Linked DNA regions of Homo sapiens. The protein of the gene in region 2 purifies or fractionates together with the protein of the main gene of each other region. This does not show direct contact. Each region holds a gene or a part of one and is shown on either strand. Other genes may lie near its edges. The genes, in order: LIPM and CNOT8.

The links.
Region 1: the proteins of CNOT8 (region 2) and LIPM purify together in Homo sapiens (co-immunoprecipitation; one large-scale study listed by IntAct). This does not show direct contact.

Annotation. Positions count from the first base shown.
Region 1 is NC_000010.11:88,801,262-88,805,776, reverse strand, and holds the start of LIPM (lipase member M precursor), read right to left. Parts: upstream 3,048-4,515; 5' UTR 2,881-3,047; coding exon 2,734-2,880; intron 1-2,733. UniProt on the Homo sapiens protein: Plays a highly specific role in the last step of keratinocyte differentiation. May have an essential function in lipid metabolism of the most differentiated epidermal layers.
Region 2 is NC_000005.10:154,871,960-154,875,780, reverse strand, and holds part of CNOT8 (CCR4-NOT transcription complex subunit 8), read right to left. Parts: intron 3,241-3,821; coding exon 3,130-3,240; intron 492-3,129; coding exon 342-491; 3' UTR 1-341. UniProt on the Homo sapiens protein: Has 3'-5' poly(A) exoribonuclease activity for synthetic poly(A) RNA substrate. Its function seems to be partially redundant with that of CNOT7.

The DNA.
Region 1 (4,515 bases), on a different chromosome or scaffold from region 2:
CCCAGAAAATCCAACCTGGGGCAAATACTTATTTAAAAAAATGGAACATAATGCAGCAAGGTGAAATGATGTTGTAGAAGGGTATTTAAAACGTTGGGAAATTCTTCATGATATACATTGTTTAGCAGAAAAAACGTTGGAAAATAGTAAATTGTGCATGACATTTCTTCTTAAGAAAACAAAACCTCACAGATTTAGAATGAAGATAAAGGCATGACAAAGCAGTTCTTGGTGCAGAGTACATTGGTGACTATTGCCTTCTTTTGTATTTTTTAAATTTTCTATAATGAGCATATATTGCTTTTGTAATAGTATAAAAAAGTCAATGTTTAAAAGACCATCCAGATATAAGCTGCTTTCAGCTCCTTGAATCTGGCATGTTCTTAGCTGCTCCAGCTGTCCTATGTGCTGACCTTTTTGCTACCACCCTCTCAAGCAACTGCCATTTATCTTTCAGATTTCAGGCTTTGAAACCCTTCTTCAGCAAAGCTTTCTGGATTAGTTCCCCCTATTTTATGTTTTCTTCTTTTATTTCATTGCTTTTATAATGACTAATTGATGATCTGTCCTTCCTGCTGGACTATAAGCTCCATAAAGTCAGGGCTTTTAATATTCTTAGATCTGTCTAACCTTAGTACATAACACAATATCATGGACCTAGTAGGTGCTCAGTAAACACTTGCTTAAAAAATACATGCATAAGGCCAGTTATTCATCAAAGTATAAGATAGACCATAATCCATATGCATGAATATACAGAGTCAAATCAATGCAGGACAGACAAGCTCCAAAATTGGGGCTTACCCTGGGAAGGTTCTTGGCTTTGCCCAGGAAAGAATTCAAGGGTGAGCCGGTAATACTAGACAGTAATCTTTTACTGAATGGTACTGCTCCTTGAAAAGCAGAGCTAATTCATAGGCAGTGCTCCCAGAGTCAGCAGTGTATGGGCTATTGGCAGCTGTATTTATGCCTACTTATAACTATTAATTTCATGCAAATTAAGGGGCAGGTTATTCAGAAATCTCCAGAAACGGGACAGTAACTTCTGGGCCATTGCCATGGAAAGGGGTACTAACTCGTGGGTCATTGCTATGACATTTGTAAACTGTCATGGTTCTGGTAGGAGTGTCTTATGCTAATGAGCAGCCGGGGCAACTAAAGGATGCCTTCCAGGCCACTGCTGGTTCTTGCTGTTTTTTTTTCACCACCTGCTGGTTTGTGCTTGTTTATTCACTGTATCCTGTTGGGACCAGAAAGTAAGTCCTGCCCTTCTCCTACCTCAGAACCAGTTCAAACTTGCAACTACTTTTATTCTATTTTGTTGAATTTACACCAATCGTACGAATTTTCTATTTTACTTTGTTTTTTTCCAGGCATAGCTGCTTAAAGGCAGAGCCCAATTCAATGGGCTTTAGTCTACAGACTCCTGAAGCCCCAGTAGTGTATAGGTGCTGGGTACACGCAGTGGGTGGGGCCCAGGAAGATCATCTCTGTCTGCCACTGCAGAGATTCCCCTCACCTCCAAACCAGAGGAATTCAAGTGGGACAGTCTCAGGGCCAGAAGGATGACTCCTGAGGACTGACACCAATGTGCTAACTACCTAGACAAACCACCTAATCATTGAATAGTCAAAAGAAACCTGATATTCAGCACCATGCAGATACAGAATATTTCTATTTCCTCTCAGTTTTTGAACCCATATAAGGAAGCTTCTGTAGAAAGGGTCTTAAATCGGTATAAATACATGTTAAAGTTCCATTTTCTGAGAGTTTGTTAGATAAATCTCTGGAACATGAACATTGCACATGATCGTCTTACTCATCTGGAGGTAGCCTCTCCTCTTTCTCACCTGGGAGGGTTTATTGCGTAGTATTTATAATTATAGACTTTGTGTTTAGGCAGTCCTGAATTTAAATAGTAGCTATGCTATTACATTGGTATGGCCTTGTTCAACTTGTTTAACCTCTTTAATCTCAGTATCTAGATTTGAAATATGTGAATGATCCTATCTACTGCACAGGGCAATGAAATTGAAATAGAATAGTATCTCTGCTTGTGTCATAATCCCTGCTATGGGATAAGTGTTACCATAGGGTGACCATTACTAAAACCCAGCTTAGAATTTGAAAAGCTACCAAAAAAAAAAAAAAAAAAAACCTCCTGGGAAAACTAAAGAGATGTACTGTCATTTATGCATTTTACTTGTAGGAGGTTCTGTGTAGCACTAACTCGGGGTCCTTTTATTGCTATTCAGCAAAGTACCAGTCCAGAAACAGGATAAAAAGAGTAGATTAGAATGGTATAAGATGCTACTAGAAGTGTGTGCCCTGATAGCAAGAAGCAAAGGCTGACACCTTTGCAATATGGAAAAAAAGAATAAAAGAATAAAAGGTACAGACAAAATGGAAATAATCAAGGGACTGGGGTGAACTTAAAAGGCCTTAATTACTTCTCCACTCATAGGATGAACCAAAGTGTTCAAGGAAAAGTTAAATTGTGTTTGAAGCTCAAAGAGATTAAGTCATTTGCCCAAGTTTACTAAATTTGTGTGAGGAGACCCCAGGTCTACTGACATCCAGTTTAGCATTCTTTCCAGTACAATTTGCTACTTCATCACTATGCTCTTCTAGTATGAATCACCACCATGTATAAATATAATACATAATGTAAATAATACACAGATACAAACGTTAACATGTTAAGTACCTCATTTCCCAGAAATCCCAACTTACAATATTCATGAATGCTTCTGGGTCCACAGCTTTAGTTGGCATATGTACTGAATTCACATTTCTCTGGAACATATACGCCACCAGAATCAGAAGCCACATTTCCATTCTGTGTGAGACAATCCACTGTCTTGACAAGGTTTCCAACATGGTCCAACATCTGCATTTATTTTTTCCTGCCAATGTAACAACTAATTCTAAAGTAAGAAGAATTTGTGGGTTTAAAAACTCTTCACATATTTTCCTGCTGCAATTCCCTCTTCCAATTCTGAAGCAAATTAGGCAAGCTTAGTTGGTAGGGAAAGAACACAAAGTAGGCTGGAAACATTGCCTAGGATGTCCCAATACTATCTGACTCCTCCCATTCCTCCCTCACACAACTTGTAATCCCTAATCCTTCAACTTCCAGGTGTGTAGAACTTTCTTTGATGTGACCTGGAATTTTGTGCATTTGATACAGCCTATTAAAACCCCTGTACTTTATCACCAGGTAATAAGGAGTGTAGGGAACCTCTTTCCTTCCACTCCTAGATTTTATCTTTCTTTGATAGATAGCAAAAGATGGAGTCTACAGAAAGCACTGAAAGTTTCTATAGTCATATTCTGGGTCTTCAATGATCACTGTTTTTTGGTTAAAGATAAGTGTTGTGATAAGTGCTTTTATTTAAAATATCTAAAATTTTATGGACATTTTCTACTTTTAGGGATGGGTGAGAACATTGATTAGAAGAAAATGAATCTTCCATGTTTAGCCCATTTCGTCTAGTTCAATTAAATAGATATACACAAAATTTTTATTTTAAGTTGTAATCACTAGTTAATCACTGGGATATGACTAGATGGATTATCTAGTAAATAAATCATCAGCTATTGTGTATTTTAGTTTTTTATATATATTTATTATATTTTAAGTTCTAGGGTACATGTGCACAACGTGCAGGTTTGTTATGTAAGTATATAAGTGCCATGTTGGTGTGCTGCACCCATTAACTTGTCATTTACATTAGGTATATCTCCTAATGCTATCCCTCCCCACTTCCCCCACCCCACGACAGACCCCGGTGTGTGATATTCCCCTTCCTGTGTCCAAGTGTTCTCATTGTTCAATTCCCACCTATGAGTGAGAACATGCAGTGTTTGGCTTTTTGTCCTTGTGATAGTCTGCTGAGAATGATGGTTTCCAGCTTCATCCATGTCCCTACAAAGGACATGAATGCTTCCTTTTTTATGGCTGCATAGTATTCCATGGTGTATAGGTGCCACATTTTCTTAATCCAGTCTATCATTGTTGGACACTTGAGTTGGTTCCAAGTCTTTGCTATTGTGAACAGTGCTGCAATAAACATACATGTGCATGTGTCTTTATAGCAGCACGATTTATATTCCTTTGGGTATATACCCAGTAATGGGATGGCTGGGTCAAATGGTATTTCTAGTTCTAGATCCCTGAGGAATCGCCACACTGTCTTCCACAATGGTTGAACTAGTTTACAGTCCCACCAACAGTGTAAGTGTTCCTATTTCTCCACATCCTCTCCAGCACCTGTTGTTTCCTGACTTTTTAATGATCCCCATTCTAACTGGTGTGAGATGATATCTCATTGTGGTTTTGATTTGCATTTCTCTGATGGCCAGTGATGATGAGCATTTTTTCATGTGTCTGTTGGCTGCATAAGTGTCTTCTTTTGAGAAGTGTCTGTTCATATCCTTCGCCCACTTTTTGATGGGGTTGTTTAAGGGATAATATCCAGAATCTACAAAGCTATTGTTTAAAATAATGGGTTG
Region 2 (3,821 bases):
TAAGAGTTATATACATTTTACTACTTTGTTTCAGACTTGTCCTGATATTTAAAAAGGTGTCAAATGAGCCATGGATGCTGGTGGCAGGAGGCAACCAGAGAGGAGAGGCTCGAGTATGAGGAATGGGGAAGACTTATTTACAAATTCAGAGCAAACTCCTCTCTTCTGGGTCTAAAATAAAAACATCTTTTGTCTTCAGTAAAACAAAAGTCTTTCTGCTCAATGCAGATGGTAGGTACAGTGTGCTCAAAAGAAGCATTTTCTCTTGGGGAAGATAAGTACACAGTCAGCACAGTAAGCACCACTCTGGGATCAGGCCCACCCTGCAGAGCCTGGCGCCATCACTGCTGCATGTTGTTGATAATCGCCAGGATGCTCATCTTCTCCTGGGCAGAGTCCACATCCTCATTCTGCTTCTGGGCCACTCCTGTGCCTAAGCCATAGAGCCGCCCACAGTACTTGGCATCATCAATGCTGTCCTCAAAAAACAACTGCAGAATGGGACAGAGAACCATGGTGAGAGTTATGCTAGAAGTCATGACAAGTATAAATATTATCACATCTGGCCGGGTGCAATGGCTCACGTCTGGAATCCAAGCACTTTGTGAGGCTGAGGCGGGCAGATCACTTGGGGTCAGGAGGTCGAGACCAGCCTGGCCAACATGGCAAAACCCCATCTCTACTAAAAGTACAAAAATGAGCCGGGCATGGTGGCACATACCTGTAATCCCAGCTACTTGGGAGGCTGAGGCGGAAGAATCACTTGCGCCCAGGAGGCAGAGGGTGCAGTGGGCCAAGGCCGTACCACTGCACTCCAGCCTGGGCAACATAGCGAAGACTCCATCTCAAAAAAGAAAAAAACCACTACCACATCACCACCTCCCAGCCTTCCTAAAGCCCTGAAAATATACCAAACTAGAAAAAAAAACTAATAGTATAGAAAGGCTCGGCCAGGCACAGTGGCTCACGCCTGTAATCCCAGCACTTTGGGGCGCCAAGGCAGGTGGATTACGAGGTCAGGAGTTCAAGACCAGCCTGGCCAAGATGGTGAAACCCTGTCTCTACTAAAAATACAAAAAATTAGCCAGGCGTGGTGGCAGGCACCTGTAATCCCAGCTACTTGGGAGGCTGAGGCAGAGAATTGTTTGAACCCGAGAGGCAGAGGTTGCAGTGAACTGAGATCACACCACTGCACCCCAGCCTGGGTGACAATGCAAGACTCCGTCTCGAAAGAAAAAGAAAAAGAGACAGGGTTTCACTCACTGCAACCTCCGCCTCCCAGGCTCAAGTGATTCCCTTGCCTCAGCCTCCCGAGTAGCTGGGATTACAGGTGCATGTCATCACACCTGACTAATTTTTGTACTTTTAATAGAGGCAGGTTTCACCATGTTGGCCAGGCTGGTCTCGAACTCCTGACCTCAAGTGATCCACTTGCCTCGGCCTCCCAAAGTGCTGGGATTACAGGTGTGAGCCACCGCACCCGGCCTAAACCTTTCCTTTTAATGCAGTCTTTTCATGCTCCTTTCTCTATAGGAGAAAGGCTCTCCTATCTGAACATACTTTCCATGTATTCTTTTACTGCCAGTATCTCTGTGCTGCTGCTGTTTAACACAACTGCTCCCTTCTCTTTAACAGGCAGAGCAATGGGCTGGGCTTGGGCTGTGGATTCAGCCGGACTCACTTGACCTTGGCAAAGTCATTTAAACTCCTTTTAAGCCATAGTTCCCTATCTATAAAACAGGATAATAGGGTTATTATGAGGAATGAGATAACGAACAGTAAGCACTTAACGCAAGATCTCTCCACTGTGGCACTACTGGGGTAGGATAATTATTTGGGGGAACTTGTCCAGTGTATCACAGGATGTTTAGCAGCATCCTGACAGGTAGCACACCACTCTCCCCCACCAGATTGTGACAACCAAAATCATCTACAGATATTAACAAATGTACCCTCCAGGGCAAAATCATCCCCAGTTGAGAATCACTGACCTAGAACATTTACCAACACATGGTAACAGTTGTTTATAATTAAGAGTAACAAAGAGGAAATGTACTCTCCCTCTCTACAATCTTAGTTCTAAAAAGGAGATCCATGTCTACAGATCAATTAATCTGATCCGGTCCTCAAAAGTGTCAACAAAATCAATATTTCAATTTTTCAAAGCAGCGTCTTACTCCTTCTACATCTTTGAATATATTTTAAAACCTGAGTCAGTGAGTAAAGAAACTAAAAGAAGAAATTAAGAGTCTAATTTTTACTAAGGGGTTATAGTAAATTCAATATAGTATTTATTTAATAATAATTAACAGAACTTACCATAATGTCAGTAGGTGGCCTAACAAATATATTTCTATTACAGGAATCAGAAAAAAAGCAAATAACTGAAAGGATTAGAGCTGACAAGAACATGAAGTTCTGGACTTGGGTGTGCTCAAGAATACTTGGTTACTGGAAAGTGGCTTTCACGTCAGAATGCTGCTTTTGCCTCTCAAACATGTGACATGCAGAATACCATAACAAAAAACAACCACTTTCAAAGTGGACATCAACTTGCTAAAAAAACAGTCTATGTGGCTGGGCGTGGTGGCTCACGCCTGTAATCCCAGCACTTTGGGAGACCAAGCCAGGCGGATCACCTGAGGTCAGGAGTTCGAGACCAGCCTGGCCAGCATAGTGAAACCCCGTGTCTACTAAAAATACAAAAAATTCGGCCAGGCAGAGTGGCTCATGCCTGTAATCCCAGCACTTTGGGAGACCAAGGCAGGCAGATCACCTGAGGTCAAGAGTTTGAAACCAGCCTGGCCAACATGGCGAAACCCTGTCTCTACTAAAAATACAAAAATTAGTAGGGCATGGTGGCGGGCACCTATAATCCCAGCTACTCAGGAGGCTGAGGCAGAAGAAAAGCTTGAACCCGGGAGGCGGAGGTTGCAGTGAGCTGAGATCGCACCACTGCACTCCAGCCTGGGTGACAGAGCAAGGCTTCATCTCAAAAAAAATAAATAATAAATAAATAAAAAATAAATGTTCAACAAACCTCAGCCCACATAACAGACCATCCACTACCTCCTTAGCCTTCAGCAAGTTACTGCCGAGAGGCCTGTGATCACATTCAAGGAAGCTTACCTCTTTCATCCTAAAGAAAGCCATTCCTGTCAGCAGTGAGTCTGAGCCTGCCTGGTGCTGCCTTCCAATCCTCTGCAAATCCAACTGATCAGCAACTTCCTGAAGACCTCCCTGGAGATGTATGGAGAACAAAGATAATATTACAAACCCAACATGCCCCTACTGGAGCCAACTAAGTGCAGTTATGAGTTCACTGAATTCTAGCAAGAAGTGGGGACAGGCCATTTATTTAACAGGCCTTAGTAACCTCTTTTTAGCTCTTTTATTCCCTTTTTCCAGACGCTATATTGTGCTACATCCTACATTTTGCTCCTTTCCATGTTGTTAATTTTTCCAGAACTCTGCCATTAAAATCAGAATTGCAAGGCTGAGGAAATAGTAAATCCCACTCTAATTCTAGACAGCAAAGCTCTATGTCAACAATTTATTACGGTACCAAGTTCTAAAACTTTCTAGAGTTAAGAACTCCTCTAAGAATCTGTTATACCACAGACCCCATCCCTAACAAACAGCATTTATACCTTTTCATTAGGTTCATGGCCCTCGAGTGAAGAATGCCTGCCTTAAGATGACAGAAGCAGAGGGTTCCCTTCATGGCCAGGTTAAAGATCGTTACCACACAAATATCTGACCAAATCAGCTTTATATTATACCCTGTCTACCACCACACTAGCATCTAGTACTCAAAAATG